Homo sapiens: one gene and its partners. The main gene of each other region encodes a partner of the protein of the gene in region 2 in a complex. Each region holds a gene or a part of one and is shown on either strand. Other genes may lie near its edges.

The links.
Region 1: MTA1 (region 2) and CDK2AP1 share a complex: the UniProt entries of both Homo sapiens proteins name them as parts of the nucleosome remodeling and deacetylase (NuRD) repressor complex.
Region 3: MTA1 (region 2) and CHD5 share a complex: the UniProt entries of both Homo sapiens proteins name them as parts of the nucleosome remodeling and deacetylase (NuRD) repressor complex.

Annotation. Positions count from the first base shown.
Region 1 is NC_000012.12:123,265,252-123,268,991, forward strand, and holds part of CDK2AP1 (cyclin-dependent kinase 2-associated protein 1), read right to left. Parts: intron 3,067-3,740; exon of another isoform or gene 2,918-3,066; intron 2,032-2,917; coding exon 1,934-2,031; intron 72-1,933; coding exon 1-71. UniProt on the Homo sapiens protein: Inhibitor of cyclin-dependent kinase CDK2. Also acts as a component of the histone deacetylase NuRD complex which participates in the remodeling of chromatin.
Region 2 is NC_000014.9:105,457,806-105,461,545, reverse strand, and holds part of MTA1 (metastasis-associated protein MTA1), read right to left. Parts: intron 3,277-3,740; coding exon 3,174-3,276; intron 1,189-3,173; coding exon 1,089-1,188; intron 782-1,088; coding exon 593-781; intron 1-592. UniProt on the Homo sapiens protein: Transcriptional coregulator which can act as both a transcriptional corepressor and coactivator. Acts as a component of the histone deacetylase NuRD complex which participates in the remodeling of chromatin.
Region 3 is NC_000001.11:6,145,673-6,149,412, forward strand, and holds part of CHD5 (chromodomain-helicase-DNA-binding protein 5), read right to left. Parts: coding exon 3,574-3,740; intron 3,404-3,573; coding exon 3,182-3,403; intron 1,200-3,181; coding exon 993-1,199; intron 752-992; coding exon 540-751; intron 1-539. UniProt on the Homo sapiens protein: ATP-dependent chromatin-remodeling factor that binds DNA through histones and regulates gene transcription. May specifically recognize and bind trimethylated 'Lys-27' (H3K27me3) and non-methylated 'Lys-4' of histone H3.

The DNA of each region.
Region 1 (3,740 bases), on a different chromosome or scaffold from region 2:
TTCCCCAGCTCTTCAATGATGGCCAGCAGCTCCGCGTATTTGCTTTGGGGCACCTGGCTGTTCCCAGTTCCCTAGAATCAGAAAGAAATGGGTTCAGCAAAATCAGCCGGGCGTGGTGGTGCGTGCCTGTAGTCCCAGTTACTCAGGAGGCTGAGGCAGGAGAACTGCTTGGACCCAGGAGGTGGAAGTTGCAGTGAGCCAAGATCACTCCACTGCACTCCAGCCTGGGCAACAGAGCGAGACTCCATCTCGGGGGAAAAAAAAAAAAAAGGGTTCAGCAGCCTGACCCCAAGGCCACAGGCAGGTGGGTGGAGAGGGCCCCGGGCCGGTCAGGATAGGGAACGCAGCCCAGCCTCAGACTTCTGGGGCAGCCACCTCAGCTGGGCCAAGGCACGTCCCATTCTAGGGGACAACTACAAGTTAGGGAGATGGTCCTCACCCTCCTATCCTCACACACTCAGGGAGGCCACCCAGTCGTCTCCAGGAAGCAACTTTATTATCTCCAATGAACAAAACAGGGGAAACAGCTCATTTTGGCACAAAAGAGTCCAAACAGCATTTCCCAGGATGCAGATGGATGGGAGGGCACATCCCAGGTGCCAAGCCTCCAAGCCAGTGGGGAGACAAGAGGCCACACCTGGGCCACCAGGACCACAGCGATCCGCCATGGCCCAGCCAGAGCCTGGAATGCATTCCCTTCTCTCATCCTCCCACCAACAGGGCCCAACCCCCAGAAAACCTTTCCTCCCACCACCACTGGGAGCCCCACAGCAAGCACCCGGATCAGCGAGGCTGGGCTTCCGGCAAGCCCACAAGCCCGCAAGCCCACAAGCCCAGGCTACCTCCCCTTGGCCACCTCCTCCCATAGACACGCCAGCTCCCTGGGCGAGGTCCTTGCCTCCCCCCTCCTCCACCACCGCCTCTGTCCCCTGGCCTCGCGCTCTGTCCTGTCCTCGTCCTGCTCCGGCTGCTCTGCCTCCCCACGGCACTGCCTCCAGGCCTCACGGGCCTCCCGCCTGTCCTGGCGCCGCCGTCGCATGGCCAGAACGTGGCACTGCCAACTCCCGGCTGCCCCTCTGCCTGGCCTCCCACAGCCACCGCTTCTTCAGCCGGTCCCGCTCACAGGCCCACACCTGCTTCTCCTCCTGGGGCAGGGCAGCCTGGTGGGGCATGGCCGGGGAGCCGCCCACTTGGCGAGGAACAGGCTCCATAGCGACCTCAGAACACTGGTGCTGGGGCCCAGCCAGGGAGAGCATCTTCCCGCTGGGACCTTCCCCGGGGCGGCTCATCCCTTGGAGATGTAGGGTGCAGCTGAGATGGTGGCGGCCCCATTCCTGCTGTTCGCCAGCCTGGGCTGGGGGTACTAGGATCACCCTTGGGCTGATGAGGAGCCCGGGTCTTGGGCAGTTACCAAGTGGGGGGTCACAGTCTGGAAAGTGGTGGAACCAGGGAGCGGCCTCGCCCAGGCCACACTCTCAAATACTGGCCCTCGACAAAAGGCAGCTGGGCTCTCAAGACAGGGCCACCTCCTCTCTGCTGGGCCCGCGCCCGTGGAGAGCAAGTGGGAACTGACCCTATCTTCTGTCCCAGCTTGGAGAGCCAGCATCAAGGTCAGGCCTCACTTGCCCAAGAAAGAGGAGTGAGGAGGCCCACTGGAGGAACGCGTGGGGTGGGAGCCTCAGCACAGCTTGGGCTGCTGCCCCTTCCTGGTGCTCTCCTGTCCCCTCCACCTCACACGTCCCCGCGAAGCACAGTCCCCAGTGCCCTCCACTCTGATGTGTTCTGAGCAGGAGCGCAGCCAGGGCCTTGGGCTGAGAAAGCTCCGTCCCATCCTTTCTGCTCCTTCGTCTCTTCCACCAACTTCTCTCCTCTGATGGTGGGAAGCATGTCTCCCCCTGGCCCTCCCACCATGCCATCACCCCCATTGACATACCTGGGTGTAGCCTAGGGACGGTGGCCCGTAGTCACTGAGCAGCTGGCGGTACTGTGAAGACGTTGCCATGCTGGTGGAAGGCGAGTGGACACTCCCAGCTGTGGGGTGGGGAGAGAGAGGCCAGGAGTCAGCTCAGCCAGTTGTACCAAGGCAAGGACTCCGGGTCCTGCAACAGCCCTTGCCCAGGACCCACACCACCAACTGTAGCAGGATGGAGAACCCTGCTCTCCACCTCCGGTTTGACCAGCATATAAGATGGATAATGAAATGTAGCTACAAGGCACCTGACCATCCCCAGCTCTGCAGCAGCCGCTGGTCCTCACAGAGCTCCATCCCATCCAACCAGAACCTTCCAAGCAGCAGGGCTGCTCCCAAAGATAAAATTATTGCCACTCCTGGCCTGAACTCTGCCCATCCCCTCTCCCTGTGTCCTGGTCCCCAGAGGCTGAGAACCTAGAGGCCACATCACACCACAGCGCCACATAGGCTGGTCGAAACCAGGCTGAGCTTCCAAGCCTTTTTGCTTCTATGCGCTCAAATCTCTGCTGTGCTCAATGACAGGGAAGACAGGAAGGCCTTGGAGTATTTGAGACCCAACCCTGGCTGGAGACAGGCACGCTGGACATCAAATCAGAAATCTAGAGAACACCATGGCCTCTGTGTGCCCCAGATAAAGCCCCTCAACCCCTCTGTGCCTGTCTCCCCCTCCCCAAAGAGGGGACCAGACTCTTAGCAGTCTATGCCCCAAGGGCTCTGTATCCCAAGACAGGAGGGTTGAGGCCCCACATATGGGATGCAACATTGGGGCCTGTCCAGAGCTGCAGTCAGTGACCAAGCAGGGCCCAGCCCAGAACGCAGCCTCCTGGATCTGGCAGGGGAGTCCGTGGCTAGGAGCACGCGGCCCCGCAATGGCGTCCCAGTGGCCATTAGCGGGTAAAGGATATCCTGCAGAATGACAAACAGCGGTAACCATGGAGAATTTACCTAGTCCTCCTCGGCAGCTGCCCGCCTGCCGCCCCCAGAGCCACACGGTCTCTCTCTCACACACACAGTGGGCGCCGCAGACTTGGCCTCGGGGACAGACAGCTGGTGCCAGGCTGGCCAAACCCACCAGCTGCTCGCTTGGTGTGGGTGAGGGGAGGGGCAGAGGAGGAAGGAAGTTCAGGGCCTCAAGCTGGGGGAGCCGGGAGGAGCACTGGAGAACCCTGGCTCCAGGCCCCTCGATTTAGAGAAATGGACCTGAAGGGGTGGCCCCAGGGCACACAGCATAGAGGAGACCAAAGCAGGGAGCCAGCTACCCCGGCACCTGCCCCTCTCTCCGAGAACGGGGACCGTTCCGAGCTGTCTCCTGAGTCTCAGGCCAGCCCTGGATGCTGCCACTGCAGCCCAGGGTTATGCTCCAGCTTGGGCTGGAACTGCAAACGTGGACTTGGATCCTGAACTGGGCAGAGCACCGTGCCACTCCGAGCCTCAGTTTCCACGCCTCCCACGTGGGGATGATGAGACACATGCGGATGATGAGACACGTGCGCTATAGGGGCGGGTTGCTTGGGAGGGGGACGCACAACGCCCACGATATCTGGCACGTCCATGGCCACTGCAGGAATTGGGCAGGGTGATGTCCCCCAGAGCCCCCTAACTACATCAGCCAAACCCCAGTTTCCTGAGCTTCTGATGTGGCAGCAAGCATGGCATGGCGAACACAGGCTCTGCCGGCACAGACCTGGGTTCTGATCCTGGTCACTACACCTCTCTGGCTCCAGGGCCAGTCGCTGGGGGTAGCATCGCGCACAGCACCCCAGGCGTT
Region 2 (3,740 bases):
CCCAGGGCTGATGGTTGGGGGCCCCACCACCCCCACATAGGGATGCTCTTCTAACAGATTAATTTAGAAGTATTTTAGGAGGGCTGACGGTTGGAGGGTGGGGGTCCTGAGGTGGAGGTACAGGGAAGGGAGACCCCACGCCATGAAGACTCTCTAGGCCTGCTGCTGGGCTAAACTCACGTGAGACAGAAAACAAGGACATGAGGAGTCAAGAGGTTCAGCTTAGTCAAAAACAAAGCAAAACCAAGCCTGGGGCTGGAGGGGGCAGCAAGGAAGGGAAAGTCTCCGTGAGGATACCCTGGCCTCCGTCACCTGGGCCAACCCTTATCCTCATCACGCAATGGTGGCAGGAGCATGGCTCTCTATGCCCAGGCCCCACCAGCGCCCCCATGCCTGTCTGCTGAACCAGTGTGACAGGAAGGACTATGGCGGCCGAGCGCAGCTGAGACAGAACTCATGCAGCTCCGCACAGGGAATCAGGGTGCAGGACAGGCTCCCTCAGGGCAGAGTGGGATGTGGAGCCCACACCCCCGCAGCCTACCTGGAGATGGGCATGGCCAGCCACTCCCCCATCGCCACCCACGGTACTCACAAAATCTTGCTGAATGTCCGTGAAATCCTTCCCATATTTTTCCAGGGCTTCCTCGAAAAGGTTGGCCTCTGATGCAGACCACTCCTCCATCTCGTCCCTGCAGAGCACGGGCCCGCCCTGCGGCACCAGCGCCGAGATGGCCTTGGAGATGTCGTAGATGTTCTTGTGGAGAGTATCCATGGCGTGGAACTGCGGCAGGAGACAGCAGGGTCACCCGGGCCAAGGTGGCTTTTCCTGCACCTGTGGCACGGTACCCCCTCCCTCAGTACCTCAAGGATCCCCTACTGCAGGCCCAGCAGCACAACCCTCCCTGCACCCTCAGCACAGTCTGGCCGAGTTTGGGGTGGATAGGAAAGGCCAGTCCAGGTGGGACAGCACCTCTGCAGGGGTCCTGAATACCTGGGGCAGGTGCTGGGCCCTGGTAGGAAGAAGGGCGCAGCCACTCTGGGCCATGGGCCACCCCAGGTCTCACCTGTCCCGCCCTGGGCCCACTTACCAGGGTGATGTCTCGGGAGGCAGCTGCGGCGCTCATGTGCAGGCTGGGCTGTCGGACGGAGCTGCTGCAGTCCAGGGCCCGTGCGAAGGTGCCCACAGAGCTGGGGAAAGGAGATGCGCTGACCACAGTGTCGGCCAAGCAGGGACTCCCCACAGGCACACCGCTCCCCAGGCGCCAGGGACCAGCGGCCACGGGCAGCACGGACTCCCCCAAGGCACACCACTCCCCAGGTGCCAGGGACCAGGGGCCATGGGCAGCACGGACTTCCCCCAGGCACACCACTCCCCAGGTGCCAGGGACCAGGGGCCATGGGCAGCACGGACTTCCCCCAGGCACACAGCTCCCCAGGTGCCAGGGACCAGGGGCCATGGGCAGCACGGACTTCCCCCACGCACACCGCTCCCCAGGTGCCAGGGACCAGGGGCCATGGGCAGCACGGACTTCCCCCAGGCACACAGCTCCCCAGGTGCCAGGGACCAGGGGCCATGGGCAGCACGGACTTCCCCCAGGCACACAGCTCCCCAGGCGCCAGGGACCAGGGGCCACGGGCAGCACGGACTCCCCCCAGGCACACAGCTCCCCAGGCGCCAGGGACCAGGGGCCATGGGCAGCACGGACTCCCCCCAGGCACACAGCTCCCCAGGGACCAGGGACCAGGGGCCACGGGCAGCACGGACTCCCCCCAGGCACACAGCTCCCCAGGGACCAGGGACCAGGGGCCATGGGCAGCACGGACTGCCCCCAGGCACACAGCTCCCCAGGCGCCAGGGACCAGGGGCCATGGGCAGCACGGACTCCCCCCAGGCACACAGCTCCCCAGGGACCAGGGACCAGGGGCCACGGGCAGCGCGGACTCCCCCCAGGCACACAGCTCCCCAGGTGCCAGGGACCAGGGGCCATGGGCAGCACGGACTGCCCCCAGGCACACAGCTCCCCAGGCGCCAGGGACCAGGGGCCACGGGCAGCACGGACTCCCCCCAGGCACACAGCTCCCCAGGGACCAGGGACCAGGGGCCATGGGCAGCACGGACTCCCCCCAGGCACACAGCTCCCCAGGCGCCAGGGACCAGGGGCCATGGGCAGCACGGACTCCCCCCAGGCACACAGCTCCCCAGGGACCAGGGACCAGGGGCCACGGGCAGCACGGACTCCCCCCAGGCACACAGCTCCCCAGGGACCAGGGACCAGGGGCCATGGGCAGCACGGACTGCCCCCAGGCACACAGCTCCCCAGGCGCCAGGGACCAGGGGCCATGGGCAGCACGGACTCCCCCCAGGCACACAGCTCCCTAGGGACCAGGGACCAGGGGCCACGGGCAGCGCGGACTCCCCCCAGGCACACAGCTCCCCAGGTGCCAGGGACCAGGGGCCATGGGCAGCACGGACTCCCCCCAGGCACACAGCTCCCCAGGGACCAGGGACCAGGGGCCACGGGCAGCGCGGACTCCCCCCAGGCACACAGCTCCCCAGGCGCCAGGGACCAGGGACAGACTGCATGAGCATCGCAGGGAGCAGCCCGCAGGTGGCGAGGACTCCTCGTGTCCTGGGCCCCAGGCTGCGGAGTAGGGCCCGGCACCCACCCCAGAACCCGTGTGCGTCTAACTGAGGGCATCCCGATAGATTGGCAGCCGCCTTGGGGCTTCTTTTGGGGTTTTCTCCACCTCCCAGGCTGCTGGCAGGGAAGGTGCATGGTCCTCTCCTGGGCCTCGGCCTTCGCCCTGCCCCAGGGGTCTGCCCGGGCTGCAGCTGCTCTGCTCCATGACCAGGCCCAGCCCACTTGCTCCCAGTGGCCCAGGAGTGGGAAAGCACCTCTGGCCCATCCTGGGAAAGCCCCATTAGGGACACATGGGCAGGCACACAGGCCTGCCCCCCAGAAGGGCCGCCCTTCTATTTAATGAAGGGCCTGGACCCAGCACTCCCGAGCCTCTCTGGGAACTGCTACCGGGGGTCTCAGGGCTGCAGCGCATGGGCTTCTTGTTGGGATATGGGATCCAAGACTGTCACGTCCCCAACACCCACCACAGGGAAGGGAGAACAGAAGCTCCAGGCACCACCCCTGCTGGCCTTGCCCAGGAGCAGGACTCACCGGGCCACCACCAGGAACTGGTCGATCTGCTTGTCTGTGAGTGGGTTGTGCGCCTCCCACACCTGGGTCTCCAACCTGGACTGGTCTCGGCCATCCTCCTCGCCTACAGGGAGGAAGTGTGGCCTTTCTGAGACGGGGTCCCACGGCGCGCCGGGCCGCGCCTCTCCTCCCCGGGTGCGGGGAGCTGCTGGGACGGGGAGGGGGAAGGGCTGCAGGGCCCCATAGGTGAGGCCAGGGTGCAAGGCTGGACGGAGGCTGTTGCACACACAGGCACACAGTGGCCTCTCAACCCGGGGCTGGGGTGCACACGCAAGGGGCCTCCCAGCCCACCCAGAATGCAGGGCTCCAAGAACTGTGGCCACAAGAGATGGGAAGGTTGGTTTGTAAATTTAAATCAAGCCTTTTTATTTATTTATTTATATTATTATTATTATTATTATTATTTTTTGAGACGGAGTCTCACTCTGTCGCCCAGGCTGGAATACAGTGGTACGATCTTGGCTCACTACAACCTCCGCCTCCCAGGTTCAAGCGATTCTCCTGCCTCAGCCTCCTGAGTAGCTGGGA
Region 3 (3,740 bases), on a different chromosome or scaffold from region 2:
GTAGCTAAGAAAGCAGGTCCTGCAGTCAGAAAGCATGGGGTTCAAATCCCAGCTCCACCCCGTGGCTGTGTGATTCTGGCGACTTAACCTTGCTGTGCCTATTCTCACATCAGTAAAACAGAGGTGAAAGTAAGACGCCTCCCTCCCAGGGTAGGCAGTGCTCAGTACAGCCAGCTGCTGTTACAAACGCGGGGGAAATGTGGACATACTCCCACACCTCGGGCGTCCCTCGTCCTCAGAACCCTCTTGCTGGTATCAAGCACTAACCCAGCATGAGGGTCCCGACGCCCCAGGGGTGTGAACACGTATGCATGAGTGTGCCGGCATGCATGGGACGGCCCCTCTAGCAGGTCAGGCAGATCTCCAGCACTGGGAACCCTGGGCCCTTCCTTGTGCCCCTGCTGTGCCCACATGTGGTTCTGCACGGCAGCCCCAAAGCAAGGGCCCTGGCACCCTGCGCTGCACCCATTTTACAGGGCAAAGAAGCTGACGTGGCCCGGCCCCAGCGATGGGCAGGGTGGCCGCCTGCAGGCACACACCTATGGTTCAGGATTCGGTGAATCATCATCCACTCTGGCTTGATGCCATAGCGGTAGAAGCGCTCCTCCATCTTGGCATAGAGGGGGTCCTTGTTCTTCCTCTTCTCGCTCTTGCCGTCTTCATCCCCAGAGCCGTAGTCAAAGGGGGGCGGCTCATCCATGTCGTTCTTTCTTTGGTAGTTGCGATACATCACCGTGTGGTACAGCTCCAGCTGCTCATGGAGCGGCACAAAGTCACAGAAGGGAGATGGGCCATGGTCCCCTGCATCTCCCTACCCAGCTCCTCTAGCCCCAGCCCAGGTCCCAGGCAGGACAATCCTCCCGCTCAGCACCACCCCAACTCCCAACAGCACCCCTCAGTCAGAGGCGCTTCAGCCCCTTCCCGCCAGCCCAGGAGGGTCCAGGGCTCACCAGGTCCCGGGCCTTAGCACAGCCACCCTCCCGGGCACTCACCTGTAGCTCCTTCACCCAGGAGCAATGCCAGTAGGACAGCCCTGCCCACTTGACAAAGAACTCTCTCTCAGGGATGCCCTCCAGGGGCTTAGGTGGAGGGAGGCTGGGCTCCACGTCAGGCCCCGGCAGCCCCACCATGAAGGGGGCAGGGGGCTCCGTCCACCTCCAGTGTAGAATCCGCTGGACTTTGCCCTTCAGTGGGGGGCACTGTGGACAGAGAAGGGTCCCCAAGGTGGGGCTCAGCTGCAGGGCCCCACCCTGAGGCTCCCATGACAGCAGGCTGCCATGCAGGCTCCCTCCCATCAGTGCCACTGCCCCCAAGTCAGAACAGTACCACGGTGACGCCATGACATCCACCCCGTCCCCAGGAGCCGCATGGGTCATGCACACAGGAGATGGGCAGTGGGGGTCTGTGAGACCACGTGGCCCTTTCACTCAATGGTGAACTTATCGGCACCCAGAATATCTGAGCCAGCGTAGGTGAGACTGCCATGTGCATAGGACAGAGGGGGAAACTGAGGCCCACTCGGCAAGGGACAGCAGAGCAGGGAGCAGAACATGAGATTCTGGACTTCCCCTACCTTAGGTCTTCCCATTGCCCCCTGAAAAGAGGTCACATCACTGTGTGATCCCCAAGCACTCAGGGAGCATGAGCCCTGTGCTGGAGCCCAGGGACACGGCAGCCCCATCCACCATCCCTCACCCGGGGCAGGGCTGCACCCAGGCACCGTGCGTCTAGGCTGGGACAATGAGGCCCCATCTCTGGCAGCCCACAGACACACTGCAGGGGCCCTGACAGATGCTAGGGTGACAGTGAGCTGCTGGCTGGCAAAGGCAAGAAATACAACAGCCACAAACCACACCACTCGGGCCCTGAGATGGGTGGGAGCAGCCTTGGCCCTCCAAGGAGGCGGTGCTGTCTGACTGGACAGGGTCGGGGGTGACTGATTCAGGGAGACAGCTCTGGTGGGGATAGCAGGTCCCAGCTTTGCTACTACCTGTCCTCGGAAACTCATCCAAGCCTCCAGAGCCTGCTTTCCCATCTGTAAAATGGCCCACCCCTTCCTCCACCTACCAGATCTGTGGTGCCACATCACACCTGAAGGCATTCTGGAGGTGCAAGGTACACCACACAGCCAGCCTTCCTTTGGCCTTGGTGACAGCAAAGGCCGAGAGGCAGAGGAGGAGGAGGAGGACATGGGAGGCAGGAAAGGCTCCTCCACTGGCTCTTGGGGGAGTGGAAGAGGGGACCCTTCCTACCCAGGCCATGGACCCTCCTACCCCCATCCCAGCCCCTCAGGGAAGAAGCTGAGAGGAACCCCACTCCTGCCCCCCTCCCATCCCCAGGGCCTTCCATCAATCCTAGGAAAGCACAGAAGGCTGCACCCCTCAAAAGGGTCCTCCCCTGGCCCCTACACAGACACAGACAAGTATGCGCACGGATGCACGCACACACATACACACGCACAATGCACACAGGACGGCCCAGGGCTAAAGGAGGCACAGCCCAGGACCTGAGGGGTGGAGGATCTGGCACCACAGGGGGCAGGACAGACAGCTCAGAGCAAGGGGCCTTCCGATGTCTACTGTGACTGGGGGGTGACGGATGGGGGGTGCCCCTCTTCCTGTAGAAACTGAGGCTCCCGCCCTAGGAGCCTCCTGCCCTAGAAGCCTCCTGCCCTCTCCCTATCCCCAGCCTTGGAACAGGAGCCAGGTCTGGGGTGGCTCCAGGAACCTGAATTTGAGTGGATAGTTCTGCCCTTGTGTGGCCTTAGGCAGGTCACTCTGCTTCCCTGAGCATCAGTTTTCTCATCTAAAAAGGGAGTAACATGCCTGGTGCCAGAATACTCAGTAATGTTAAAGGACACTATGATGGATGTGGAGCCCTTGCAGAGCACGTGGTCACTGAACAGTGGTCGCGGTGTTGGCATGATCACCACACCTGTCTGCCTTTCCCTAACACTCATGCCTCCCGTCTCTAGGGGAGTCAGACGCGGAGAAGGGCGCGAGGAAGCTATTGTGGACGGGGTCTCGAGCAGCGCGGGCGAAGCTTTGCGGGATCGGCTACCGAGGCGGGGCAGGAGCCGGCAGGGGCGGGGCCTTTTGAGGAGGGCAGGCCTTCCCCTGGGGGCGGGGCCTGTTCCTGGGGTGGGGCGGGGCGTCCGGCGCGGGGCGGGCGGAACACTCACAGTACAGCGCGGGCAGAGCCATTCACCGTTTGGGATCTCGGGCAGCGGCGGGTTGAGGCAATGCAGGTGGTAGGAGGAGGGGCAGGCGTCGCAGCAGAGCAGCTCGCCCCCGTCCTTGCACACGCGGCAGAACTCCATGTGGTCGTCCTCCTCCTCCTCGCAGCCGCCCTCCTCCTCTTCATCGTCGTCGTCCTTCGGCTCCCACTGGATCCCCTCCTTCTCCTGGGGGAGGAGGCCAGGTGGAGGCACCCTGGGCGGGGTCCCCGCTCCACCAGGCCCGACTCCCTCCCTCCCCTACAGCATCTCCCCGCATTCTGCCCCCAAATGAGGGCACAGGGGTGGGGGAGCCAGGCGTGGCCCCGCCCCCAGCCCGGGGCTCTGCCAAGGCTTACACAGTGGGGGCAGCTCCACTTGCCCTCGGGAGCCTTCTCCAGCTCTGGGTCCAGGCATACGAGATGGTAGGCCCTCGGGCAGGTGTCGCACAGGATGATCTCCCCACCCTGCTGGCACACCTCACAGTAATCCTGGTGGTCTGTCTCATAGCCGTCACCATCATCAA